Homo sapiens: one gene and its partners. The protein of the gene in region 1 purifies or fractionates together with the protein of each later gene. This does not show direct contact. Each region holds a gene or a part of one and is shown in the gene's direction. Other genes may lie near its edges.

Region 1 (4,034 bases):
AGAGGTTAGAAATGCCTTGGGTTGTTGCCATATGTGAGCCTGCGTCCCAGGGAGAGAAAGTGGAAAAGGACAGATCACTTGTTTGGACAGCCAAAGGTTTTAGGGCAGAGTTTTTCTCCTATGGAGGGGCCTTTACCAGTTGCTCTCCCTGTTTCAGACATTATCGGTCTGCTCGGGTAGAGACTCCATCCCATCCGGGTGGTGTGAGCGAAGAGTTTTGGGAACGCAGTCGGCAGAGAGAGCGGGAGCGGCGGGAACATGGTGTCTATGCCTCGTCCAAAGAAGAAAAGGATTGGAAGAAGGAGAAATCGCGGGATCGAGACTATGACCGCAAGAGGGACAGAGGTAAACTGTCCAGCACAGTTCCTATTGTCCATTAGCATTCGAATAAATGTGTCAGCCTTTTTCTTGTTGCAGGAGTTTTTGCAACACCCATTTGTTAGGGAGTCCTATTTGCATGATGTCCGCCTGAGTGGTTTTGACCCTGCTGGGATTGGGAATACTAGTTTAAGAAAAGAGCTGTTGCCTGTAACATAGCTGCTCTCCTTGAGTGTGTGGTCTTCGTTTTATTATGAAAATTGATGATAAAGGAGATAATGGGTAAATATGTATAAGAGACCAGCATTTCTAATAGTATTGGTGATAGAGAAAGGACAGTGCTATGGAACAAAGCTAGACAAAAAAATCCAATGCTGTCCTTGCTCAGTATTAAGTTTTATAGCTGATAGAATTGTAACTATTAAAAAAAATGATTCACTGTAAACTCGCACTAGTATTTTTTGAATTCTTGCTGGAAAATAACTGTTACTGTGGGTTTGAAATTTTCTAGGCAGTAACTATTTTTCCCCCTTGGGAGAATGGGGATAGGTGAGTTTCAGGAGTCCACGGATCACATTCGAGCAGTGCAGGTTGCACCTGTGAGTGAGTGGGCAGCCTGTCCTTTCTCTAGGGTGAAGATGTGTATACCTTAGGATGGGATGCATGTTTTTAAGCTTCGTGTGACTCTTCATAGATGAGCGGGATAGAAGTAGGCACAGCAGCAGATCAGAGCGAGATGGAGGGTCAGAGCGTAGCAGCAGAAGAAATGAACCCGAGAGCCCACGACATCGACCTAAAGGTAGACTCACTGTTTTGGTGGCTTGTGAGGATTCAAGTGTATAAAAGGCAGAGTGAGTGACTCTCGTCTTCAGTGAGATTGCTGAGGCATTGAGTCAGAATTCCCGATTCTACCATGAACATCTTGGGATAGTTGGTTCTGAGTCAGGTGGGCACAGCTCTGCACTTGGGGTGGATATGGTTCCTGTAAGGTGAGAGGCTGGTTTGCTGAATGGCCAGTTTTCCAAATGGTAGGAAAGAATAGGGAGCTGGAGGTAGAAGAAGTGTTTATTAAAAAGAACTACTTATATCCAAGAAGGGTGTGTTTGTAGAGATAAAGTAAATATCCCTTAAAATGTTGTCATAAACACAGAATGCAAACTGGACCATTGGCTAGGTGCAGTGGCTCATACCTGTAATCCCAGTACTTTGGGAGGCTGAGGCAGGCAGATTACTTGAGGTCAGGAGTTCGAGACCAGCCTGGCCAACATGGTGAAACCCCATCCCTACTAAAAATACAAAAATTAGCCTGGGGTGGTGGTGGGTACCTATAATCCCAGCTATTCGGTAGGCTGAGGCAGGAGAATCACTTGTACCCGGGAGGCAGAGGTTGCAGTGAGCCAAGATCACACCACTGTACTCCAGCCTGGGCGACAGAGCAAGACTTTGTCTCAAAAAAAGAAAAAAAGGAAAAATACATCCTGGACCATTAAAAATTGAGATATCTTTAAAAACTGTCAAAACCGATCTTAACCGTTATAGATACATGCAAGGTTTAGAAATAGTAAAAGGAGTAAATTTGGGGAATTGACTTTTGGCAACTGGTTCTAGACCATGTCATGGTTAAGTGAGATGTTTCCTGTGGATGTGTCTTTTGTGGCCCAGATGCAGCCACCCCTTCAAGGTCTACCTGGGAGGAAGAGGACAGTGGCTATGGCTCCTCAAGGCGCTCACAGTGGGAATCGCCCTCCCCGACGCCTTCCTATCGGGATTCTGAGCGGAGCCATCGGCTGTCCACTCGAGATCGAGACAGGTGATGTTCTGGGCAGAGCAGCCCAGTTTCGCTGGGTGGGCGGTAAGGAGCCTCGGCAGGGAGAGCAGATGGTGGCCAGGAGGACGTGGCTTAGCTCAGTGACAGTTTTGTGATGCTGGTGCTGCTGTTCCCAGGTCTGTGAGGGGCAAGTACTCGGATGACACGCCTCTGCCAACTCCCTCCTACAAATATAACGAGTGGGCCGATGACAGAAGACACTTGGGGTCCACCCCGCGTCTGTCCAGGGGCCGAGGTGAGGCCTGTGGGGCAGCAGGCAGAAGAGCAGGCTTGCTTGCCCTAGCGAGGATGAGCAGGGGCTGCCCTTCTGGAGCTGCATGGCCCTGCAGATCTGTCTGGGGCCGCTGGGGACAGGCCAGGGCATGGACTGACCTGCTTCCTGTGCTCCTCCAGGAAGACGTGAGGAGGGCGAAGAAGGAATTTCATTTGACACGGAGGAGGAGCGGCAGCAGTGGGAAGATGACCAGAGGGTAAAGTTTTATACCTCTGAGGGGCTGATCGGGGCTGGTGGCCGTCTGTAGATGGGTGACCCTCTAGCAGGACTGGGCTTTGATGAGGGTACACCTGAGCCCTGTTCAGACCCAATGCCCTGGAGTCTCTTTGCAGAGGCATAGACGGCACGGTGAACCCTGTCACTCACTGCAGTAGGCTGACCTAACTGTTCTGTTATGTGTTGGTGCCACCATGTGGTAAATCTAAGAAGTGCTATCGTGATGGGCTGCCCTCCAGTCCTGTGTAGTTGCCCACTGTGGTTCTCCTCCAGATGGCATGTGTCTGCAGGGAGGCCTCTCCTGCACCCCTCACAAGGGTAGCTCCACTGCAGTAGTGACTTCCTACCAAGCGTCCCTTCTTCTGTTGGCCATGTCTCGTGCATAAACTTGATCTGTCCCTCACTCCCTTGCTTTGCCTCCTGCCCTGCAGCAAGCCGATCGGGATTGGTACATGATGGACGAGGGCTATGACGAGTTCCACAACCCGCTGGCCTACTCCTCCGAGGACTACGTGAGGAGGCGGGAGCAGCACCTGCATAAACAGAAGCAGAAGCGCATTTCAGCTCAGCGGAGACAGATCAATGAGGTGAGGCTGCCTGCAGAAGTTGGAGCAGATTCAGAGCTGGAGGTAGAGCACGTGGGGAAGCAGCAGGTTATCCCCAAGTGAGGGCAGCACAGCTTGTCCCCTGATTGCCGAGAAGCCCAGATCCTCTGGAGGTGGAAGAGGAGTGGGTGATGAGCCTTTTAGTAGCTTAAGGAAAGCCCCGGCTCGTACTTCTCTCTTTTGCAGTACTTCCTTGAGGGGAAGTACTGTTGATGGGAACAGGTGCATTGGGACCTGCCTCTGTGGTCTGTGTTCTTTGTGTCTCTGATGTGGGCTAGGGACACTTACCATTTGTGTGTCCCTCTAGAGGTTCTGATTTAGATGAAAGGTGCTGCTGCTTGGAACAAACTCCTGCAGGTGATTTGGGATCAGCACCTCTTCTGTCTTTGGAGCTGTGGGTAGAGGCCTGTGACATCTTTGCAGCTACCAGTGGCCTTCTGTCAGGACTTGATGTGTGGACTTACCTCATAACCTTTCAGGACGACCTTTGGGGTGGCAATTTGAGTGTGGCTCCCATTGTGTCCTCACAGGATAACGAGCGCTGGGAGACAAACCGCATGCTCACCAGTGGGGTGGTCCATCGGCTGGAGGTGGATGAGGACTTTGAAGAGGACAACGCGGCCAAGGTGCATCTGATGGTGCACAATCTGGTGCCTCCCTTTCTGGATGGGCGCATTGTCTTCACCAAGCAGGTGAGGCTCCTCTGTGGCCAGGGACAAGACAGCTCAGAGAGACCTGATGTGGGCCAGGTGCAGTGGCTCATGCCTGTCATCCCGGCACTTTGGGAGGCTGA
Region 2 (4,034 bases), on another chromosome or scaffold:
CTGTACTAAGTCTGAGAATAGAAATGCAAACAAAGACCACATGGTGTGCCCTATGGAACTTACAGTTGATGGACTCATGAATAGGCAAAAAGAATGTAAATAAAATAAGTACAAATTGTGTAGTAGTAAATGCTTTGAAGAAAATAAGCAGGATACTGAGAAGAGAGGGGTGGTAGTGACCAGGGAAGGCCTGACTCCTAGTGAGGACTATGAAATTTTTCCCTTATTCTGTCAGTATTCATTGTTCAAGAATTTAATCAGATTTGCCCTGGAGTTCATGTGTTTTTTATTTTAAAAATTCTATTGTTAATCATGTTGCTATAGGCATGAAGCATTTTTTTTTTTTTAGAGAAAAACTTAATGTTTTGTGAAAGAGAGAGACAGCTAGAGTTTTTTGTTTGACTTTGCCTTCTCCTGACTTTCCCTCTGCAAGGTTTTTGTGTTTCTAAGTTGTCTTCTTTTAGTTAGGAGACTAGAATACAGAAAAACATTCTGCTAAATATGATTTTAGGTATTTTGTCATAAATTAGATCTTAGGAAAACTGATTTTCAAGGCATCCTGGGGTTTTAACCTAAATTTCCCAAAATATTAAGGCTGTGAATCATTTTTCATCACAGGATCTTTGTGATGTGTCAAAGAAAACAATTTTGTAACTGCAGTTAAAGATATCTACCAAAGTAACACAAATGCTGCCTTCAAAATGAAAACCAGTTTTCTGTTTATTCTTGCTAAATGTTTATGTAATATAAATGTAGTATGGGTTCTGGTTGATGTTTTGTGAAAATTATGTTCTGTTTCATCCAGCGCAAGTATTTACTTGATCTGATTTCTTCTTGATACAGGTTAAATGGGCCAGGGAAAACTATCACCATAACATTGGCTCACCATATTGCTTACGGTTAGCTTCTGCTGATGTCAATGGGAAGATCATCGTCTGGGATGTAGCAGCAGGAGTAGCTCAGTGTGAGATCCAAGAGCATGCCAAGCCTATCCAGGGTGAGGAAAGTCTGCTCAGCTAAGTGTGTATATTGATACACTTACTCTTGGAGTGGTTTTTTGGTTTTGGGGGTTTTCCCCCATTCATTTAATTTTATCAATTCCAAGTTAGCTCTTGATTGTGTTTTGCCTATTCTGCTGATCTAAATCTGGCTTTCTGTCCTTACTAATACACTTCTAGGCATATTTCTTCAAATCTCAACTGATTTGTGCTTTGGTAAAACTCATTAATTGCAATATCAGCCTCATTCAAGCATGATAAGAAAAAGTAAGTGGTACAATCTTGTAATCTAAGCTACAATATAAGGAAAATTGGCCACTGCTGTTAGGAACTAGCCATCAGTGCTTACTCTACATTAAGTAATTTGTTCATTATCAGAGATGAACAAAATTTTATTCTCATTTTCATATAGATTGCTTGTTTGTTCGTTTCATGTTACTGACCTAAAACCAGTACGGTATTCTTTTTTTTTTTCTTTTTTTTTTTTTGAGATGGAGTGTCGCTCTGTTGCCCAGGCTGGAGTACAGTGGCGCTATCTCGGCTCACTGCAAACTCTGCCTCCTGGGTTCACGCCATTCTCCTGCCTCAGCCTCCCGAGTAGCTGGGACCACAGGCACACACCACCACACCCAGCTAATTTTTTGTATTTTTAGTAGAGACGGGGTTTTACCATGTTAGCCAGGATGGTCTCGATCTCCTGACTTCGTGATCCACCTGCCTCGTCCTCCCAAAGTGCTGGGATTACAGGCGTGAACCACTGCGCCCTGCCCAGTACAGTATTCTTTAGACTTAAGTCCTCCAGTGGCTCTCTTGACTGAATGAATTTTTTAAATGACTATTTAAAAAATATTTATTAAATACTTACTGTGTACTAGGTACTGAACTAGATCTTTGCATATTCTGTTTATTTTTTGAAAAACCATGAAGAACTGTAAAGTTCCATTAAGTAATTCCACAGAAACATTAGGAAAGTCTGACATCTTGGTTGTGGCTAAGAGAGTTTCATATTGATTTTATAGTTTTAAGTAATGATTAGGGCAAATTGCCTTTTATTTTCTTTGAAGTAATATTTCAGATTACTTCAAAATTTTTACCTTGAGAGTTTAACCAGACAACTTATTTTTATATAGAATTAGTTTTTTCTCTGGAATATTGATACACACACACACACACACACACACGTCACATTTGGGGCTGGTGGTTAAGTTTTTAAAGATTATATTTTAAAAACTAAATATCAAGGACAAGTTAGCCAAGGACTTTGGAGAGTGTGGTTTCTGAATTTTGCCTTTCTTTATCGGGTCTTTCCAGATGTTCAGTGGTTGTGGAATCAAGATGCTTCCCGCGATTTACTGCTTGCTATCCACCCGCCAAATTACATTGTGCTCTGGAATGCCGACACTGGCACCAAACTATGGAAGAAGAGCTATGCAGATAACATTCTTTCTTTTTCTTTTGACCCTTTTGATCCCTCACATTTAACTTGTGAGTAACAGTTGCTTGTGGAAAATGAGTTAAGTGAGATATTTATAATATAGTAATGCTATGTGCATGAGATATACACACACATTATACATCTATAATGTTAAAATGACTGAGCGAAGTGGAGAAGCATGTCTAGTCCATATATCTGCAGCTCCTAATACACATACTCAATCATAAGTTCATATCATTGCAAATATGATAAAAAATTAAATCAGCAAGCTACACCTTCACTGTGTTGAATTTGTGAATAGTATTAGACTAGCCAGGGACAGAGAGTTACTTTGACACTCCAGACTTAATTAGTTCTTCTAAGAACATTTAAATAACTTGAATCAAGGGTTTCATTCAGTCTGTGGCCAAGTTAAGTTCTTGCTTTTTAATAAATTGTCCTAATTCACGCCATTCATTTTGAGTGCCATAAACAGATGCATGTAAAGAAGAAATAAGCCTAAGCAAGTTTTTTCTTGCAGAGATAGTTTTTGCTAATATGCTTTTAATGTTTTCCTGAGCTAATGATCTAAAAATGAGATGTGCTTTAGGTATTTTTGTGGCTAAATTGTTTAGAAACTATTTAATCATCCAACAGATATTTCTTGAGCTATTGCTACTCTTCTGGGAACCAAGATGTCTCAGAACCCAAAAGGCAGGAGCCTTCACAGAGTTTGCATTCTAGTGAGAAGAAGTCATATCATAAACTGTGACCACAATGAATTAATAAATTCTAGTGTAGTAAGAGGTGACAGGTGATATAAAGGCAGGATAAAGGGGATGCAGAAGAATGGGGGATGAGGGCATGCAAGTTGTATGAGATAAAGTGGTCAAAGTAGGCTTCACTTTGATAATGATCAGAAATGTGAAGGAGGTAAGGGAATTAGCTATGGTAAGGAATGTTTTTCCTGGATTTGAATGACTCAAAATTGTTTTACCCATCAACTTTTATTGAGGGGTGTGTGTGTGTCTGCACGTGTTAAAGGAGGAAGAGAAAGGCAGACAAAATTGAAATTATAATAACATGGGAAATGTGGCTGTGTAAATACACTACAGGGTGCTTAGGCTTTTATGTATGTAAATGTTTGTATATGGACGTGTGCATACATACACTCACTTGGTCACCAGTTTACTTACTCACATAGGTGCAGTGCTGGGGAAACACCTAGGAGGGCTGGCCCAGTTGGCAGAGTCAGGGAAGGAGGGCATCACAAAAGAAGGAAGCAAAGGGGACCTTGAAGGATGAGTTCTGGAACCTGAAAAGGCAACAAGGCTTTCAGCTAACTTGATTGCATCAGCTCTTTACATCTCTGTAATTTGGTTGATGAAAGCATTGTGTGTTCCAGAGTGTCAGTTGACCTAACATCTTTGATTTACTCATATTGAATGTGCTAGGGTTGTCATAACTCTTGAATGCATCCTTTTTCCCTGTGTTTAGAGCAGCCTTGCTAAGGGCTGGGACCCAGGGTAGTAAGGTTTTTCTGCTCATGTCTTCCAGTATTAGGCCCATTGTTGAGGGAGATTATTTTTTCAGTCATAAAAAGGCATAATTTGTATTGCTAA
Region 3 (4,034 bases), on another chromosome or scaffold:
CTCCCCCAAGGAGGCCTCAGCATAATTCTTCAGGTGCATCTCCTAGGAGAGTCCGTCATGATTCACCAGATCCCTCTCCTCCTAGGCGAGCCCGTCATGGTTCCTCAGATATCTCTTCCCCCAGAAGGGTCCATAACAACTCCCCTGACACATCTAGGAGGACTCTTGGCTCTTCAGACACACAGCAACTCAGAAGGGCCCGTCATGACTCCCCTGATTTGGCTCCTAATGTCACTTATTCCCTGCCCAGAACCAAAAGTGGTAAAGCCCCAGAAAGAGCCTCTAGCAAGACTTCTCCACATTGGAAGGAGTCAGGAGCCTCCCATTTGTCATTCCCAAAGAACAGCAAATATGAGTATGACCCTGACATCTCTCCTCCACGAAAAAAGCAAGCAAAATCCCATTTTGGAGACAAGAAGCAGCTTGATTCCAAAGGTGAGCATATGACTGTCCATGAGAGGGATGTATGTATCCCTGGGAGCTTTCTTTTGGCCGTTTAGTTGATTTATTAGGTATAAGAATGGAATTTCTTTGGGAAAGTTTTGAAAAGTGAGAGGCTGGGTTTGGGAGAGTTGAACAATTATGGTGGCAGGGAGGAAGGTTTTCATATGTCTTTTTATGTGCTCGCTCCACCCCATATAAAAGTACAATTTATTTGTTGCAGAAGCTTTGGAATGTACAGAAGTATATAAAGATAAAATGTGACACAAAATTCTGTCATTCAGAGGCAATTATTGTTAGTGTTGTGGCCAGGGTCATCTTAGTCTTTTTTGGTTTGCATTTTTTATATAGTTGAGCTCTGGCTGTGTAGAACATTTGTATTGCATGTGCAATCTTGCCTGCTGTCCTTTCTTAACGTAGTCTTCCTCAGGCCATAAAACATCTTTATGTTAGTATAATTTTTAATAGTGTTTAATTACAAATTTAACCATTTTCCTAATAATGAATGTTTTTGGTTATTTCTAAGTTTTTTCTTCTGTAATTCTATAATGAACATCCTTGTACATAAACTGTTGTCCCCATTTTGGATTATTTCCTTATCTACTTCTAGATAGATTTCCTCGAAATTCAACTACTTCTATATAAGTTTCCTAGAAAGCTGAGAAGTTGATGTACTGGGTCAGAAGATGTGGGCGTTTTAAAGACTGTCGATACATATTGCAGAATGCCCTTTGGGAGGTGACTTGTGATGCTTATACAGTCGCTAGAACTTAGGCCTGTGCAGTGAAATTTTTTACTCCCTCTTTTGTTCCTAGGAACTATTTTAATTTTAAAATTAAAGTACTTTGTTATCCTTTAGTCCAAGGATATCAGACTATATTCCAGGTATTTCTGACTTTTGCCACACTATGGAGAGCTGACTACAAGTTATTTTGTCTTTCCATGGGTGGGGTTACTGACATAGAGGAGTGTGTGGAGATTTTACACACCAGTTACAGTCAGTGGTCACTTGGGAATAGAATGCCATATTCTACCTGTTGGTCTTAAAAGTTGTTTCTGACTTTGCTCTTCTCCTGTGCCATCCATACTTATGTTTAGGTTAATGATAATTCTTCATAGGAAAACTAAATAAATATTGTACATTAGCTTGGTAAGTTATCTTTTTAGATTCTTCCAAGGGGATTAAAGAACTCTTTGGCCAGGCATGGTGGCTCAAGCCTATAATCCCAGCACTTTGGAGGCCGAGGTGGGCAGATCACCTCAGGTCAGGAGTTCAAGACCAGCCTGGCCAACATAGCGAAACCCCATCTCTACTAAAAACACAAAAATTAGCTGGGCGTGGTGGCACACACCTGTAATTCCAGCTACTTGGGAGGCTGAGGCACAATAATTGCTTGAACCCAGGAGGCGGAGGTTGCAGTGAGCTGAGATCATGCCACTGCACTCCAGCCTGAGACTGTCTCAAAAAAAAAAAAATAATAATAATGTAAGGAATTCTTTAATTTCTAGGTTCTTCTCCCAGCCATAGGAGATTTCATGTAAGTTCTTCACCTAGAGGACATCAGAGTCACACAGATTCTTTGCTCCTATCCAGGTGACTGCCAGAAAGCAACTGATTCAGACCTTTCTTCTCCACGGCATAAACAAAGTCCAGGGCACCAGGATTCTGATTCAGATCTGTCACCTCCACGGAATAGACCTAGACACCGGAGCTCTGATTCTGACCTCTCTCCACCAAGGAGGAGACAGAGGACCAAATCTTCTGATTCTGACCTGTCCCCGCCTCGAAGGAGTCAGCCTCCTGGAAAGAAGGTCAGGATTTTCAGGAGCCATGTCCTTCTTTTCGTGTGACTCTTCTCTCTCAGCTTTATATATGTCCCAGAGAATCAAGCCAAGAAGAAGGATGTAGCTCTGAGAAGTGTAGTAAATCTTAGTTAAAAGGACCTTTGGAGGTCTTTCCTTCTGAAGGCAAACTGGCTATAACCCATCCCAGATGGACTTACAGATACCAGATTTCCCAAGTAGCTTCTGCGTTTATAGCCTCTTAATTCTACAATCTCATTTTAACAGGTCTAGAAAAACTTCCTATTTTCTTAGGAATAAACCGAGGACTGTAATTTGCAGAGTGAAGTTTGGAGCACAAGCATTGTGTCAAACGGATCACATACAGAAATTCTCCTTCTGCCACTTACTGTCTGTGAGATTTGGGCAAGATGCTTAATATCTCTAAACCTCAGTTTCTTTATCTGTAAATTGTGGATAATAGTAGTACCTACTGTGTAAGGTTGTTATGATAATTAAGCCAGTGTAAGTAAAACTCTTAGCACAGTGTCTGGGACAAAGTAAGCATCTAGTGTTAGTGATTTACTAGTATAAATTGGACTATAGGTCTCTGTATCCAGAGCTTAAGGAGAGGCACTTAAAATATGAAACCACTTTTAGAAATCATGTTGTCTGAGAAGTCAATGGTTTGTTTTAAATTCATGATAAGGCTTGATGAATTAGCCAAAAAACCCCAAAATCCATATGAACCTTGAGTAATTATATTGTAAAGAACATTGGTAGTAGTAAAGGAATCTTATTTGTAAGTGGTTAAGAAACAGAATGATAGAGCCTGTGATGTGCATTTTTCTCCCCAGTGCAGACTTATCAGGTAAATCTTGTCTGTAGAAGACTCTGAGAAGACTGGTCCTGGCAGGGTAGACCAGCCTGTTCTTTACCCAGGAAGTGAGATTCTTCTTTTTTAGGGAAAAAAGAGGTCTCTGTTTCAGCTGGACCTCTTGGCATTTTATATATCCATTTAGTTCATGGACAACTTAATATTATTCCAATTTCGTTGCTGAAGGATATCAAGATATACTGTGTGCTTCATTCGTGGGCTGATTTGCTATCTTGATGCTAAGTGGAAATTAGCAAAAAGTTTTCATTTGTTAGATCTTCTGTTATTACCATGAAATATATCCACAATTTAAGGATCTTAGGTTTGCTTGAGTTTGTACTGTAAATGGAATATTTTATCAGTATGGGTCTCTAATGGAAGGCTTAGTGCTTTATACTGGTTTCTGATCAGATGACCTGAGATAGTCTTCATGTGTGCAGTTTATATACTGAAAAGTCAGAAATACAAATGCGTAGCCCTCCATTTAATATATTGTTAGTGTTTCTGCTTATTCTTAAACTTGATGGTTTTGATGATGGTTTTCTTTTATAGTTTTTGAATCCTATGGTAATTATTGAGAATATAAAGCTAGAGTTTTAGGTTTAATTATTGCTGGTCATTAGACACAAATGCAACTAACTGTGTACCCATGGAGCCTACTGTCACATCATCTCATTAATGTTGGATGCTCCCTTTTCCGTTGCATAGGCTGCACACATGTATTCTGGGGCTAAAACTGGGTTGGTGTTAACTGACATACAGCGAGAACAGCAGGAGCTCAAGGAACAGGATCAAGAAACCATGGCATTTGAAGGTAAAAATATGAAAGTGCAGAGACCAATTTAGGCTCATACTGTTTTTTTTTTTTTAATTTAGCTTATTGTACCTGATATTTTGAACTTTTAATTGCTATCAAATTTCAGCTCTGGTTTTA
Region 4 (4,034 bases), on another chromosome or scaffold:
CTCCGCCTCCCGGGTTCACGCCATTCTCCTGCCTCAGCCTCCCGGGTAGCTGGGACTACAGGCGCCCGCCATCACGCCCAGCTAATTTTTTGTGTTTTTAGTAGAGACAAGGTTTCACCATTTTAGCCAGGATGGTCTCGATCTCCTGACCTTGTGATCCACCCACCTCAGCCTCCCAAAGTGCTGGGATTACAGGCGTGAGCCACCCCGCCCAGCCCAATTTTTTGTATTTTTAGTAGAGGGGGGTTTCTCCATGTTGGTCAGGCTGGTCTCGAACTCCCAACCTGAGGTGATCCACCTGCCCCGGCCTCCCAAAGTGCTTGGATTACAGGCATGAGTCACTGTGCCCGGCCAGTTTCAACAATTTTTAAGTGTACAATTCATTGGCATTAAGTATATTTGCAGTGTTATGCAGCAGTTACCACTATCCATTTCCAGAACTTTTTCATCATCCCAAACAGAAACTCTGAACCCATTGAACAGTAACTCCCCATATTCCCTCCTTCCAGCTCTTAGTAACCACTATTCTACTCTTTATGAATTTGCCTATTATATATATCGATGATGCAGCTATTTTTTATTATTATTATTTTGAGACGGAGTTTCACTCTTGTTGCCCAAGCTGGAGTGCAATGGTGTGATTTCGGCTCATTGCAACCTCCACCTTCTGGGTTCAAGCGATTCTCCTGCCTCAGCCTCCCCAGTAGCTGGGATTACAGGCACACGCCACCACACTCGACTAATTTTTTGTATTTTTAGTAGAAACAGGGTTTCACCATGTTGGCCAGGCTGGTCTCAAACTCCTGACCTCAGGTGATCCGCCCGCCTTGGCCTCCCAAAGTGCTGGGATTACAGGCGTGAGCCACTGCACCTGGCCAATGCAGCTATATTTAACCCTTTTCCTGTCTGTCCTGTGAATACTCGCCAGTAGTGCTTGGCTGCAGTGTTTACCTTGAGATAACTTTGCCACAAAATACCTAGCTTTTATTATTATTTTTGCATTGCTGTGGCATATTGACTTTGGAAACAGAAGACATCATTCTATTTATAGCATTCTGGTTTTAATAGTGATATTTTCATTTACAAACTATAGTAATTGTTAATCACTGAAAATGTCAAATCGTAGAAAACATAGCAGTCCTGCACATGGTATTGTCATTCTCGAACAGTTGTTGCCCGAGGATTCGTTTGTTGAATCTGATTTTTTTTTTCGAAATAGACGAATCTGATGATTCAAACAATTCTGATGTTAGTTCTATTTAGAAATAACTCCAAGAACAGTTTTTATATTTTATTTTCACCTTGAAAGTCAGATTTGCTTCGGCCTCAAAGAGCGTGTTTATGTAAAATTAAATGAGTCCTTGCAGCAAGCTGTACTTTTTTTTTCTCAATGGGTAAAGGGTTAAAAGTATGTTTTCTTCCATTTTGAGAGATACTGTTATTATTGGGGTGTATACGAGTATGTGGCTATTTGCTATATGAAGGTGATTTTATTCTGTCTCCTTGAGTTGTGAAATAGGAGTTTTATACTATATTTATCATGTTAATCCTTTACACCCTAACAGTATAGTAAGCATGCTTTTTAAGTACTTGTCTTACTTGTAACAGTAGCCTATACTCAGCTTTCTGCATAACTGCTTTTGTTATTTCCATATCATTCACTAAGTTTATTGAGCAGCTACTATATACTTAGTATTGTGGATCTCAGAGTGTGGTTTGTGGACCTCTGGAAGTCCCTGAGCCCCTCTTACAGGCATTTATGAGGTTTTCCTTTTTCTAGTTTGATGTCAGTGTGAGGCTGTGTTTTTTTTTTTTTTTTCATGTACTTTTGCTTAAAGAACATATTGCAACACACTGAATGCCAGAAAAGATAAATGAGTATCTGGTTGTCATTTGTTAAGCCAGGTATTGAGATTTGCAAAAATGTAAAAGGGGCTACTCTTTTTTATAAAAGTTTAAATTTTGGATCATATAGCTGTTTCTCTTAAAAAATATTTACATAAACATAAAATGACTTATTTTAAAATGAATTCATAAATATTTTCACGAGTCTTGGTTTTAATTGTAATTTTTAAAAATTTATTTTATTTTTTATATAGAGACAGGATCTCACTGTGTTGCCCAGGCTGGTCTCAAACTCCTGGCCTCAAGTGATGCTCCTCACCCTCCCAAAGTGCTGAGATTATAGATATGAGCCACTGTACCCAGCCTCTGCATAATTCTTAAGAGTTTAGGCTGGGTGTGGTGGCTCATGCCTGTAATCCCAGCACTTTGGGAGGCCAAGGCCAGGAGGATCACTTGTGGTCAGGAGTTTGAGACCAGCCTGACCAACATGGCGAAACTCCATCTCTACTAAAAATACAAAAATTAGCCAGGCACAGTGGCACGTGCCTGTAATCCCAGCTACTCAGGAAGCTGAAGTGGGAGAATTGCTTGAACCGAGAGGCGGAGGTTGCAGTGAGCTGAGATTGTGCCACTGTACTCCAGCCAGGGTGACAGAGCGAGACTGTCTGAAAAAAAAAAAAAAAAAAGTTTAAAAGGGTCCTGATACAAATAATTGAGATTCTATCTCTGACTTAGTGCCTAGCTAATCGACTTCATTTTGCGACGTTTCCCACCAGTAGTCACCTATTATTGTTTACTTTAATTTTTTGCATAGGATTTACTTTTCTTTCAGGTCATTTATTCACCTACCAATTTTTTGTTATTCACCAATAATGAGTGTGGGGGAGGTTAGATGTACATATCAGGTTCTTTTTATAATATATAGGACCTGTGTATTTTTAAACTGTAGTATACAATTCAGGGTGCTATTTCACTTGTTGACAGAAAAACATTTAATAATCTTAGGAGATTGGACAGAGTCACAGTCTGTAGTTGATAAAAAGAGGACCAGGAACAGAAGCTCATATGTAGCTTTCAAATGACTGTTTTTGTCTTCAGAAGGGTTTCCAAATTCATACTAGTAAATCGTAAATACTTTTTTATATTCAGAAAATAAATTATATGAACTATAAATATTTGTAAAACTTTGTCATTTTATGTATTTTATAATAGGTTTATTTGTGAAGGCTATAATTACGTAAATCAAGTGCAGCTTTTTATTTTTCTAAAAGATTTACTCATTTCTGCTTCATGAGATGCATTTCATGAAATAGCCAGATTCTGTGAACTGTCTGTTATTTACATAACATTTACTACTTAATTATCTCTTATGTGCCAGCAATGATGTTGAATTTTTTTTTTTTTTTTTTTATTTTAGATTCAGAGGGCACATAGGCTTATTTGTTACATGGGTATTGCATGAGTAATGGTGGAGATTGGGCTTCTAGTGTACCCATCACCGTGATATTGAACACAGTGCCCAGTAGATAATTTTTAAACCTTCAGTCCTCTCCCATCCTACCCCTTTTTGGAGTTCCCAGTGTCTGTTATTTCCATCTTAATGTCCTTGTGTACCCACTTGTAAGTGAGAACATGCGATATATGATTTTCTGCCTCTGAGTTCACTTAGGATAATGGCCTCCAGCTCCATTCATGTTGCTACAAAAGACATGATTTCATTATTTTTTAACATTTCATTTGTATTCCACAGTGTATATATACACCCCATTTTCTTTGTCTGATCATCTGTTGGTAGACACTTAGGTGGGTTCCATGACTTTGCTATCATGAATAGTGCTGCGATCAATATACAAGTGCAGGTGTCTTTTTAATATAATGCTTTTTTTTCCTTTGGGTATGAATTGTGTTTTCAACTATGTGTGAAAAGGAAAGAAATAAGATTGTGGCCAGTGGTCTCTATTTTATTTTATTTTTTGTAGAGGTGGGGTTTTGCTATGTTGCCTAAACTGTTCTTACCTGGCCTCAAGCAATCCTAGTGCCCAGCCTTCCAAAGTGTTGGGATTACAGATGTGAACCACCACACCTGGCCCTACAGTGGCCTCTAAGCACTTATTTCCTAAAGTCTCACTCTGAGATTTCCATGTAGAAATTTTTGGTTAGGTAGTAGGTGTTTCTAGATACCTATCTGG
Region 5 (4,034 bases), on another chromosome or scaffold:
AGTACAAATAAAAATTTCTGTAGTTAAGTACTCCTTTCCTAGTAAATGTTCAGATCCTAGATTTGCACATAACCTGTGTTGTGAAAAATCTCCAGAATATGTTTGACAAATGTTCAATGAACCTCATTCCTCAACATCCAAGGCAATTCATTGTGATAGATGTGTAGATGTGATTAGCACTCTTGAGAACGCCGAATCATATAAAACAAGGAAATGCAATGCTTACATTGTTCTAGGTTTAATCATTTGATAGTTGGAAATTTCATATGGTTCAGTCTTGTGAAATAACTAGCACTTTTTGAGTATATTAACTAAATAGTGGATTTTACACAACTTTTTTTTTTTTTTTTTTTTTGAGGCGAAGTCTCACTTTTTCACCCAGGCTGGAGTGCAGTGGTGCCATCTCGGCTCAGTGCAACCTCCGCCTCCCAGGTTCAAGCGATTCTCCTGCCTCAGCCTCCCTAGTAGCTGGGATTACAGGCATGTGCCACCACCCCTGGCTAATTTTTTTGTATTTTTATTAGAGACAGGGTTTCATCATGTTGGCCAGGCTGGTCTGAACTCCTGACCTCAAGTGATCCGCCCACCTCGGCCTCCGAAAGTGCTAGAATTACAGGTGTGAGCCACGGTGCCTAGCCTGTGGTTTTTATTAAAGAAATTGGTGCATTTTATCTAAGTTGTCAAGTTTATGTGCTTAGAGTTGTTTGTCACAGCCTCTTTTAATATCTGTGGGGTCTGTAGTGGTGTCTCTTTTCATTCCTGATATTGATAATTCTTCCTTTTGTCTTTTTCCTTTGTCAGTCTGACGAGAGGTTTATTCATTATACATTTTCAGAGAACCAGATTTTGATCTGATTGAATTTTGTTTCTATTTTTGTTTTCAATTTCATTGTTCTCTTTCTTTCTAATGCTTGCTTCAATTTTTATTTTGTTCTTTTTCTAGTTTCTTAATGTTGAAGCATAGATTGTTGATTTGATACCTTTTTTTTTTGAGACAGTCTCAAATGACTTTTAATTTAATTCCATTATGGCTAGAGAACACACATGATTTCCGTTCTTTGTGCACTTGAATGTACATTCTGCACTTGAATGTACATTTTTGTGTAGTGTGTTCTATAAATGTCAAATCCAGTTGGCTATTAGTGTTGGTCAATTCTTTTATATCTTTGCTGATTTTCTACTTGTTTATTGATTACCAGGAGAAGAGTATTGAAGTCTGCAACTATAACAACTGTAATTGTGGATTTATCTATTTCTCTCCTTTTTTTTTTTTTTTTTTTTTTTTTTTTTTTTTTTTTTTGAGACTGAGTCTTGCTCTGTCGCCCAGGCTGGAATGCTGGAGTGCAGTGGCATGATCTTGGCTCACCACACCCTCTGCCTTCCTGGTTCAAGTGATTCTCGTGCCTCTGCCTCCCCAGTAGCTGGGACTACAGGTGTGAGCTACCATGCCTGGCTAATTTTTTGTATTTTTAGTAGAGACAGGGTTTCTTCATGATGCCCAGGCTGGTCTTGAACTCCTGGGCCCAAGCAATCCACCTGCCTCGGCCTCTCGAAGTGCTGGGATTACAGGCATGAGCCATCATGCCCGGCCGTATTTCTCTTTTAAGTTCTCTTAGTTTTTGCATCATTCATTTTGAGGCTCTTAGGTGGGTACATACATATTTAGGATTGTTGTCTTCTTAGTGAACTCTTTTATTATTATGTAATGACACCTTATATTCCTAGTAACTTTCCTGGCTCTGAAGTTTCCTTTGCCTCAGATATGAATATAGTTACTTCCGTTTTATTAGTGTTTACATGGTATATCATTTTCAATCCTTTTACTTTTAACCTTTCTGTATAATATTTAAAGTGGATTTCTTCTGGATAGCAAATAGATGGGTCTTGTCCCACTCTGACAATGTCTTTTAGTCAGTATGTTTAACTGTATACATTTAATATAATTAGTTATGTTTAGATTTGCTTTACTGCTTAAGATTCATAAAAACAGACTGGAAAATGTGTTTTTAGCAAACATTGTAAAGTATTTAGAAGTGATACCAAGAAATTAGTCTTAAGAGGCGACAAAGGATTCAGGCAAATGTTTGAGTACTACTTGTGTCCTTGGTCAAGCCGTTTAACAACCTCTTTGTGAAATGGAACTACTATACAGTTTTGTTCTTAATTTGGTTCCAAAGCTAACAGGACAGGAAAATTTGCTTATATTCAAAATTAAACTAAACTTTAGACTCACATTCAAAATAGCTCATACTTCGAGTGAGGTATATGGGATCTGGTTTGTTCTGAGGGAATAGGAGAAATGCATCTCCGCTCTCAAGGTCACCCTGGGTCATAAGCTCATGAGTAGAGTGACTAGATGCAATGGCCTGAAATTTAAATGACTTGCACTGTATATGCTCATTAACCTGTTATATTATTAACCTAATAATAGGACTCCAGTGTAATAGTGCTTACATAACAAGATTGTTGAGAAGAGTAATTAAATAATGCCATCTTATAGATTGTATTAGAGTAACATGAACTTACTCTAATAGGGTGGATTAAGGAGCACAATTTTAATTAGGCACACTACTGTTTGGTATAACAATCGGATAAGCAGGTGGGGAAGAGTGGCGTGGGAGAGAACAGTTGGATAGCTCTGCTGCTCTGAGTCATTCTTGTTTGTCCTAACTGATTTGAAGGCCACTGTGCTAATGACAGTGCTGGGAATGGAGGCAGAAATGAGGTTTGGTCAGTTGTAGGGTTTCCTCAATGATGTTTAGATTTTATAACGTCCTCTTATAGCTAAAATTTATTATTGATACTCCTAAAGAAAAAAATATTTTTACTGCAACTGGAAACTCCCTTGTCCCCCCCAGTTCCCATTTTTATATGGAAATAGTTATTTTTATATGTGATTTTCGATAATGCAGTGTTTCTTAAAATTCTATCACTGTTCTTGTAGAGCAGTCTGTATTTGTTAAGTATATATAGCACAGTATCTGATTTTTTTTTTAAGTTGCTTTAAGTATTGCATGTGCAGGAGTATGGACACTAAGTCAAGTTAAGGGGCTTTCATATTTAGGTATTGTGCAGGTAGACCTTTGATTTTGGTCCCTTTTGTTCCCAGAGATTGTATCTTAAAGTCCGAGAGACAGTGCTGTAAAGTGAAATCCTGAATTCTTGCTTTCACTCCCTATGTATGTATACTTGTACAAAGAATTGAAGCCTGATTCTTAATTCAGCAATGTTTATTTTATTAAACACCAATTAATCTTTATGTAATCACTTTTTAACATTTTTTAATATTTTGTCTTTACTTTTATTTTAAATTTTTATTTTTTTCTTGGCCAGGCACAGTGGCTCATGCTTGTAATCCCAGCACTTTGGGAGGCCAAGGCAGGAGGATTGCTTGAGCATAGGAGTTAGAAACCTACCAGCCTGGGCAACATAGTGAGACACTATCCCTAAAAAAAAAAATTTCGTTTGGCTTTTTTTTTAGAGACAGAGTATCACTGCGTTGCTCATGCTGGAGTACTGTGGCTATTCACAGGCATGATCATAGTGTGGTGTAGCCTCAAATTCCTGGTCTCAAATGATCCTCCCACCTCAGCCTTCTGATACGTAATCACTTTTGGTGACTGTAGTTTACCCTCATATGAAGATACCTTGTATTAGTTAGGCTAAATGATAAGATTGGTTCTAACATAAAGGTTAAATAACAGTACTTACAACAATATAAAAGTTTTGCTTTTCTGTCACACAGCACTCAGAATCAGCAGATCAGGGCTGTCCATGTGAGGGATCCAGGCTCTTTTTGTGTCGATACTGTGTTACTTTTGACATGGGGTGGGTGCGTGCGGCTCTTAACAGAAAGATTCAAGTTTAATAGATACAGAAGAATTGATGGAATCAGAAGAATCATCATTTTGCAACCCCCATGGTAATAACTGGTTCAGAAAGTAGTCATCAGTGGCCAAACCATAGGTGAAAAGTTGTGCTGTGTGCAAAGTATCCAACAGATTATTTATTTAAAATGGAGGAAAATTCCTTTA
Region 6 (4,034 bases), on another chromosome or scaffold:
TTTATTTATTCTGAGACAGAGTCTCTCTGTCACCCAGGCTGGAGTACAGTGGCGTGATCTTGGCTCATTGCACCCTCTCTAGCGGTTTGGATGTGAGATTGCAGTCTTTTGTGATCTTTCAAAATGGAAATCCTCATGTTATAAATGTTTTAAGAACTGTAAGGTGACTGAGTGTATGGCGTGGTTTTTGGACACAAAAAAATGCTTGAGCATTGGGTTACCTGATCTTTTATCTCTTAACTGTGTGTAATATGTTTCTGCCAAAGTATGTATTTTTCCCATGAGTAAGCTGTTTTATTTAATAACATCCTCAGTTTGGTCTGAATGTGCTGAGTTGTTTATTTTCTCCATGCATTTGCTGCATGTGACCTAGTTTGAGCCGTCTCTTTGTGTATTGCTTCTCATGTGATATTAACCCACTCAAAGATGCCATGGGGTTATGTTGCAGATCTCAGCTCTTTTTTTGTTGGATTAAAGATATTTGTAGGCTAGACGCGGTGGCTCATGCCTGTAATTCCAGCACTTTCGGAGACCGACGTAGGCGGATCACCTGAGGTTGGGAGTTAGAGACCAGCATTGCCAACATGGTGAAACCCTGTCTTTACTAAAAGTACCAAAATTTGCCGGGCATGGTGGCGTACGCCTGTAGTCCCAGCTACTCAGGAGGCTGAGGCATGAGAGTCACTTGAACCTGGGAGGTGGAGGTTGCAGTGAGCTGAGATTGTACCATTGCACTCCAGCCTGGGTGACACAGTGAGACTCTGTCTCAAAAAAAAAAAAAAAAAAGATATTTGGAGATACTTGTATAAAATGTCATTTCTAAAATATGACCCCCAAATTCAGTCTCCTATTGATAGAACCAAAGCCATTTAAGCAGTCAGTAGAAAATTTTGAAAACCTGAAACGTGATAATGCACATTTCTTGACTTTTCTTTCCTTTCCTTTCTCAGGTACAAGAATATTCCACAGATGTCCTTTGATGATACAGAAAGGGAGCCAGATCAGACCTTTAGTCTGAACCGGGATCTTACAGGAGAATTAGAGTATGCTACAAAGTAAGCACTGGGCCTGTCTTCCATTCTCTATGGCTTCTTATAGGGCTTGCCATTTATTTTTGGCCAGTCTCCTGCTCTCTTAGCATTGGAAATGAGTTAAAACAGTGGAGGAGACTTGATCTTTGGCTTGGTCAGTTTTTGGCAGAGATTCAGTGCAAGCCACAGACTTGTTAACTTGCAAGCAATTGGCAGATCTGAATGAACTCCTAGGGTGGTTTTAGGAAAGATGTGTCTCCCATTAGTTTAGGTTAACACTAAATGTGCTTTAGAATCCCTGCTGGGTTATGCAGCATTTCTCATTCCTGTTCCTTGAGGGCAGGAGCAGTGTTTATCCCTACTGCCTTGGACAGGATCTGGCAGGTGCTCAGTAAATGGTCATTGAATTAATTGCCTGTCCAAAGGAGAAGGAAGAACTCAGGAGCTCTGACTTTGCCTGGCTTTTACAAGCTGGAGCTGAATTGTTGTTTCACATGGTGGTGAGATACTCATTGAACTATAATTCATACCTTCTTTCCCTATTCCTGTCATCCTCTAGAATTTCTCGTTTTTCAAATGTCTATCATCTCTCAATTCATATTTCAAAAAACTTCGGAGCAGATACGACAAAGGTCTTTTATATTGGCCTGAGAGGAGAGTGGACTGAGGTAAGATGGGGTTGGAAAGGTTTTCCCCTCATGTCTACATATCTGCACACTGTGGTGATGGGAGCTTCCAGGGAAGGGAAAAGAGCAAGTGTCATAATTACTCCCAGTTTATTATTTTTCTTGGTTTTATCAGTATAAACTTTTCGTCTCATTTGAGAAACTACAGGTATTTTTAAGGGGGTTGAAACTGTTATTTTTATATAAATAATATATATAATATATATATATATATCTCAGCTCACTGCGACCTCCGCCTCCCAGGTTCAAGTGATTCTCCTGCCTCAGCCCCCCAAGTAGCTGGGATTACAGGTGCCCACTCCCACGCCTGGCTAATTTTTTTGTATTTTTAGTAGAGACAGGGTTTCACCATGTTGGCCAGGCTGGTCTCGAACTCCTGACCTCAGGTGATCTGCCCATCTCAGCCTCCCAAAATGTTGGGATTACAGGTGTGAGCCACCTTGCCCAGCCTGAAATTGTCATTTATATTAATTCACAGTTTTCTACTTTCAAATGCTTTCATTGAGTATTTTTGATAATCTTTTCTATTCATGAACCAGGGATAAGATAATACCATAGACAAGTTCCTATTCTCATGGTACCCCCATTATAGTAGGGAGACTGAATCTTCAAAGTTACAGGGTGAATCAATGATAATGATCTTTGCAGCTTTCTGGAGTTAAAAAGTATCAAAATTGGGAGATATTAGATGATGACATCTAAGTATTAAAATAAGGAGATATTAAATGATGACTCCTAGAAATGAACCTGAATAAGGACTACCGCAATGTGTGTGGTGTGGGAAAGGACAGTTCTTTTAATGGCTGGCTGACCCAGCCTCAATTTTCTTGCAGCTTCGCCGACACGAGGTGACCATCTGCAATTACGAAGCATCTGCCAACCCAGCAGACCATAGGGTCCATCAGGTTACCCCACAGACACACTTTATTTCCTAAGGGCTGGCCAAGGCTCCCATAGAGGCGCTGTGTCAGTGAAGATGTACGACTACCTGTTGGGAAGGACAAAGGGATGAGGCTCCAGAGAGAGTTGGCTGCCACAGCCTCTGCCAAGCTTTGTCTTTGGGGCTTGCTGCAGAAACCTGGCCTACGGAAGATACGACACCACTGGGAGGGTTGTGTAGGTGCCAGGGGACCATCGTGGTTCTCTAGGGCGCTGTGGAAATTGGGTCTTGGGCTGGGTGGCATCTGGCAGTCATGGGTAACACTTGCTTTTCCAGTTAATGTGGCCATGTGATTCCAAGTGTCATGTTGCTTTGTGGCAAGATTGTTGTGTGACTTGTTTTTTTGTTTTTGTTTTTGTTTTTTTAAAGGAAACTATTTGTGGGCTATAGGAAACTTTCTGATGCCTCCGGATTGTGTTAGTAGTAGCCATCAGGAGGGTCTCCAACTAAAACACTTGTTCCTGCTTGCTCCTTTCCCCTCTCATTGTTCAGCATTCTTGTCAAGTTGCCCAGCTTGGAGTTGTCTGTCACGCACATGTGTCCTGTGGTTATAGCTAGAAGGACAGGAGTCTCCTGCTGATGCGTGATAGCTTAAGCTTGGGGAGAAGGTCTTTTCCACTGCCTAGCTAAGCAGTCTGGGGAGAGCATGGGGATCATTTCTATGTGTGTGGGTAATCTGGTCAGTAAGATTGAGACTTAGTTAAGATTCCCCTTGGAAATTCCTTAATGTTTATTAGCTTCTAACTAGTGTTGTAAGTCCGATGCCAGAATTTGGAGATTTGAGTTCTTCTTTTCATGGCTTTTATTCACTGTGACTAATAAGCTTCCTAATAAATCCTTGCCAGACTTAATGTTTGTATTTTCTTTTGAGTTCTTGATAGCCACTGATGCAACTTTCATTTCATGGGGAACTGTACTGAACTTTGAAATTTTTTGTTGTTGTTTTGGACTAGGTAGATTATAGGAAGTGCCACAATTAAATCAAGACTGGAGCCGGGCGCGGTGGCTCACGCCTGTAATCCCAGCACTTTGGGAGGCCGAGGTGGGCGGATCACGAGGTCAGGAGATCGAGACCACGGTGAAACCGTCTCTACCAAAAATACAAAAAATTAGCCGGGTGCGGTGGCGGGAGCCTGTAGTCCCAGCTACTCAGGAGGCTGAGGCAGGAGAATGGCATGAACCCGGGAAGCGGAGCTTGCAGTGACCTGAGATTGCACCACTGCACTCCAGCCTGGGTGACAGAGTGAGACTCCGTCTCAAAAAAAAAAAAAAAAAAAATCAAGACTGGATCAGTTTCTCCAGGAATGGTCAAGCTTAATTTTGTACAGTAGGCCAAAAACACTCCTACACCCATATATAGTAAAGAAGAAGGTGGGG
Region 7 (4,034 bases), on another chromosome or scaffold:
GTTCCTTTATTATTTTTTATTTTATAGAAAAATAAGTTGGAGAGCCAGCAGTGTTGTATTGTGACCATTGAAGCCTTGGAAGTAAATGAGCTTATCCATTAGTGGGAGTTTAGAGTGGCTTAAAAGGTGCTGACTGAGCCTTGAGGAATCCAACATTAAATAACTGGGCAAAATTTGATGACAAGAGAGGTACAAGAAAAACCAAGAGGGCCAGGCACAGTGGCTCACGCCTGTAATCCCAGCACTTTGGGAGGCCAAGGTGGGCAGATGGCCTGGGGTCAGGAGTTTGAGAGCAGCCTGGCCAGTGTGGTGAAATCCTGTCACTACAAAAAATACGAAAAAATTAGCCGGGCATGGTGGCGGGCACCTGTAATCGAGCTACTCGGGAGACTGAGGCAGGAGAATCGCTTGAACCTGGGAGGCGGAGGTTGCAGTGAGCTGAGATCATGCCACTGCACTCCAGCCTGGGCAACAGAGCGAGACTCTGTCTCTAAAAAAAAAAGAAAAAGAAAAACCAAGAGAATGTAGTGTCAGGGAAGTCAAGACATAATATATAAAAAGGGAAGGAACAGAGCTGAAAAATGTCCATTGGATTTAGCACAATGGTCCTTGATGACTTAATGATGTAACTCTTTTCTTTAGAATGGTAGGGAATGGAGGGCTAAGTTAGAGTGAGTGAGGATGAAAATAGAAGGTGAGGAAATGGAGGCAGTGAATATAGATAACTCTTGAGATATTCATTCTTGAAGGGGTACAGAGATAGGACCCTCTTTTCTCTCATTAAGAGTTACTGTGTTAGAAAAGTTTGAGACATACACAGAAAGAGGGATTAAGGATGGATATGAGAAAAGAGTCCTGTGAAATTTTAAATACACGTGTGTGTCTCTCTCCATTTGTAAATTGGAGTTGAGAGAGAAACAGTGCTAACAGTATGTAGAGACCTTGAGGAGGGGGAAGAGACCCTTCCTTACACATAATATAGGAGAAAAAAAAACATATGAAACAGTATATATTATTAGGATGTATTTTTGGTAGTTTGAGTGAATTCATGAAGGCCTACTTTTTACTGTAAGTTTCACTTCTTTTCCTAGAGGAGGCCAGATAACCATGTCAGCCACAGTTGTAGATGCAGTTAATGCTGCACCCCTATCGGGGTCCAAAGAAATGAGTTTGGAAGAACCAAAGAAGATGACCAGAGAGGACTGGAGAAAGAAGAAGGAGCTAGAAGAACAGCGAAAATTGGGCAATGCTCCTGCAGAAGTTGATGAAGAAGGAAAGTAAGTACTTAATTTTTTGTATGATCCATTCATTCAGAATTCAAATTCATGTCTACTTAGTTTATTAATTTTTCATCCTTTGAGAGGAACCTCTCTTCATTTATGTCATTTTTGTTTTTTATTTTATCAAACTCATATGCATATGGTTTAATAATGAAATTATGTTGAAGGGCTTATAATGAATAGCAACAGTCCTTTTTTACCGTTCCCACCCCTGGCCTGCTCTACAGAAGTGACTGCTATGAAATCTTTCTATTTTGAGTTTTTCTGGTTGTTACCGTCACATCTCTAGATAATAATACCTACACAATTATTTTAATTAATTGACTATAGACATTATTTGAACCAAAACTTCTTGTGATAGAAGATTTAGATTACTAACACACATCTCTATTTTCCTTCCTCTCTTGTCCCCCTTCAGTTATATCACTATTCTTAGTTTCTTAGTTGGAAATATTTTCACTCTAAAATAAATTACTTCTTTATTTTTAATTATTCTTTATTATAGTATAGAGATAGCAACCTTGTTCTCTTCCCCCTACCACTGCAATATTTCTGTTCTTAGATTTTGTATAAGCTACCTTTGTAATTGTAATACTGATTATTTTCCAATTTTATCCTTAAATTTTTTTTTTTTTTACTTTAATTACAGAGACATCAACCCCCATATTCCTCAGTATATTTCTTCAGTGCCATGGTATATTGATCCTTCAAAAAGACCTACTTTAAAACACCAGAGACCACAACCAGAAAAACAAAAGCAGTTCAGCTCATCTGGAGAATGGTACAAGAGGGGTGTAAAAGAGGTATGTAGGCAACCTGTATACATCTTCATGGATATGGAGAGTTTAAGAACTTAATGTAAGAATTTTTAATGCAATACTATTTAAAGTAGAAACAGATAATAAAACCCTTTATCTGGTATTGAAATTCACAGTGCATTACTATTTTATCTTTGTGTTTCTTATATAAATTTTACACTCCTGAACTCTTTAAAGTTTCACATTTATAAATGTGTGGAGACTCTAACTTATTTTCCTTTTAACAAAGAAATCATTTCCCTAGACAAAATAGTAATGAGAGTCAAAGTTATTTCTAACTTACGTGGTTAAGACATTTTTGTTTTTCTTTATATATATTTATAGAATTCCATAATTACTAAGTACCGCAAAGGAGCATGTGAAAATTGTGGGGCCATGACACACAAAAAGAAAGACTGCTTTGAGGTAAGTTCACCTTTGAAAATTTTGAAAACCGTTGTCAGAGTCTTTCTTTTTTCTTTGTCAGAGAGCTAACTTCTCTTTTTCTGAAATCACCTATATTTAGGTACAAGTTAAATAAAAATTAGTTTCAGTGGAATTGGTTCAACACCAACAAAATTTTCTACTGTAAGACTAACTGTAAATTGAATAGATCGTAAAGTGCCCACTCTGTAAAAGTTGTATGAAGTTTTCCTTTGGGCCATAAAAACTTAGGAAAAGATTAAATCTTACTCTGTTTTTAGAGACCTAGGCGAGTTGGAGCCAAATTTACAGGTACTAATATAGCTCCAGATGAACATGTCCAGCCTCAACTGATGTTTGACTATGATGGGAAGAGGGATCGGTGGAATGGCTACAATCCAGAAGAACACATGAAAATTGTTGAAGAGTATGCCAAAGTTGATTTGGTGAGCAAAATTCCCTGCTTTCCTGGGGTTTTTAAAGAATCGTCCTTTTGCTGTATCTCTAGCAGCTCTACTTTTCAAATCTTGAAGCACTTTAAAAATGGTAGCATTTTTATAATAGTAGTACTACTGTATAGGCTACCTTTATAATTGTAATATTGAGTAAAGGAAATAGTGTGCTAGCCATACTTGCCAGCAGTTTCTTCTTATTTGATTCTTATATTGGTCCTTTACTCCCTGACTTAGGTAGCAAAAGATATTGGAAGCATGAAGACAGATTAGTGTCCAAAGCTTTTGGTTTTGTGAGGTTAGAAATGTATGGCCCCAAGCTATAGCTTGCCCATGAACCTATTTTATAGTTGCCTCCCATAGCATTTGGGAGTAGTAGAAAGGGAATGGATAATTTGTTTCAGAAAATTTTATTTTATTTTAACCCAACTTCAGTTTTTACTGTTATGATTTGACCTATTCACCCTTATTCCTTTGAAGTCATAGTCACACTGCCTTTTTTTTTTAATTAGAGGTATCATTTTAAAATTATAAGATTTCATATAAAAATCTGGATTTCATCTTTTCTTGAATATTGTAATATATGGTAACCCCACGCCTGCCTGGTAAGAGTCAGTCATCTAGAGTTCTGTGGCAACTGCTTGTTTTTGTCAGGGCTTGCTCCCTGCAATTTACTACTGATGCCATTTGGCTCAGTTTACATTAATGCCTGGTTCAAACACTGTGTAACTCCTGCTCTTTATAGAGTAATAGGTCTAGGGCTACAAGGAATCCCAAAGAGATAGGTTTGTTCAGTGACCTTTTCTGAAATAAATTAATTTAAAGTTATTCATTTTAAATATATAAAAATTTAGGTGGTGACTTGAATGTTGTAAGTAAAATTTAAATGTTTACTTTTTCTTTCTTTCTTTCTTTTTTTTTTTTTTAAAGGCAAAACGAACATTGAAAGCCCAGAAACTCCAAGAGGAATTAGCCTCAGGAAAATTAGTGGAACAGGCTGTAAGTAATGAAAATGATCAATAAAAAGGTTTTATTTCTTTTAAACAAAGAAATGAAAATTGAAACAAGAATTCATTTTATAG

Evidence for each region.
Region 2: the proteins of DHX38 (region 1) and WDR11 fractionate together in Homo sapiens (co-fractionation; one large-scale study listed by BioGRID). This does not show direct contact.
Region 3: the proteins of DHX38 (region 1) and BUD13 purify together in Homo sapiens (co-immunoprecipitation; one large-scale study listed by IntAct). This does not show direct contact.
Region 4: the proteins of DHX38 (region 1) and PPP4R3B purify together in Homo sapiens (co-immunoprecipitation; 2 studies listed by BioGRID and IntAct, with this or other methods). This does not show direct contact.
Region 5: the proteins of DHX38 (region 1) and NKTR purify together in Homo sapiens (co-immunoprecipitation; one large-scale study listed by IntAct). This does not show direct contact.
Region 6: the proteins of DHX38 (region 1) and PITHD1 fractionate together in Homo sapiens (co-fractionation; one large-scale study listed by BioGRID). This does not show direct contact.
Region 7: the proteins of DHX38 (region 1) and SLU7 fractionate together in Homo sapiens (co-fractionation; one large-scale study listed by BioGRID). This does not show direct contact.

What each region holds. Positions count from the first base shown.
Region 1 is NC_000016.10:72,096,665-72,100,698, forward strand, and holds part of DHX38 (pre-mRNA-splicing factor ATP-dependent RNA helicase PRP16), read left to right. Parts: intron 1-157; coding exon 158-345; intron 346-1,012; coding exon 1,013-1,117; intron 1,118-1,980; coding exon 1,981-2,128; intron 2,129-2,262; coding exon 2,263-2,381; intron 2,382-2,539; coding exon 2,540-2,616; intron 2,617-3,067; coding exon 3,068-3,223; intron 3,224-3,771; coding exon 3,772-3,933; intron 3,934-4,034. UniProt on the Homo sapiens protein: Probable ATP-binding RNA helicase. Involved in pre-mRNA splicing as component of the spliceosome.
Region 2 is NC_000010.11:120,857,800-120,861,833, forward strand, and holds part of WDR11 (WD repeat-containing protein 11), read left to right. Parts: intron 1-843; coding exon 844-997; intron 998-2,309; coding exon 2,310-2,483; intron 2,484-4,034. UniProt on the Homo sapiens protein: Involved in the Hedgehog (Hh) signaling pathway, is essential for normal ciliogenesis.
Region 3 is NC_000011.10:116,758,954-116,762,987, reverse strand, and holds part of BUD13 (BUD13 homolog), read left to right. Parts: coding exon 1-435; intron 436-2,035; coding exon 2,036-2,253; intron 2,254-3,808; coding exon 3,809-3,914; intron 3,915-4,034. UniProt on the Homo sapiens protein: Involved in pre-mRNA splicing as component of the activated spliceosome. As a component of the minor spliceosome, involved in the splicing of U12-type introns in pre-mRNAs.
Region 4 is NC_000002.12:55,593,524-55,597,557, reverse strand, and holds part of PPP4R3B (serine/threonine-protein phosphatase 4 regulatory subunit 3B), read left to right. Parts: intron 1-4,034. UniProt on the Homo sapiens protein: Regulatory subunit of serine/threonine-protein phosphatase 4 (PP4). May regulate the activity of PPP4C at centrosomal microtubule organizing centers.
Region 5 is NC_000003.12:42,603,399-42,607,432, forward strand, and holds part of NKTR (NK-tumor recognition protein), read left to right. Parts: intron 1-4,034. UniProt on the Homo sapiens protein: PPIase that catalyzes the cis-trans isomerization of proline imidic peptide bonds in oligopeptides and may therefore assist protein folding. Component of a putative tumor-recognition complex involved in the function of NK cells.
Region 6 is NC_000001.11:23,784,725-23,788,758, forward strand, and holds the end of PITHD1 (PITH domain-containing protein 1), read left to right. Parts: intron 1-950; coding exon 951-1,055; intron 1,056-1,590; coding exon 1,591-1,699; intron 1,700-2,550; coding exon 2,551-2,652; 3' UTR 2,653-3,508; downstream 3,509-4,034. UniProt on the Homo sapiens protein: Promotes megakaryocyte differentiation by up-regulating RUNX1 expression.
Region 7 is NC_000005.10:160,412,368-160,416,401, reverse strand, and holds part of SLU7 (pre-mRNA-splicing factor SLU7), read left to right. Parts: intron 1-1,091; coding exon of another isoform or gene 1,092-1,107; coding exon 1,108-1,277; intron 1,278-1,929; coding exon 1,930-2,083; intron 2,084-2,422; coding exon 2,423-2,503; intron 2,504-2,781; coding exon 2,782-2,946; intron 2,947-3,882; coding exon 3,883-3,951; intron 3,952-4,034. UniProt on the Homo sapiens protein: Required for pre-mRNA splicing as component of the spliceosome. Participates in the second catalytic step of pre-mRNA splicing, when the free hydroxyl group of exon I attacks the 3'-splice site to generate spliced mRNA and the excised lariat intron.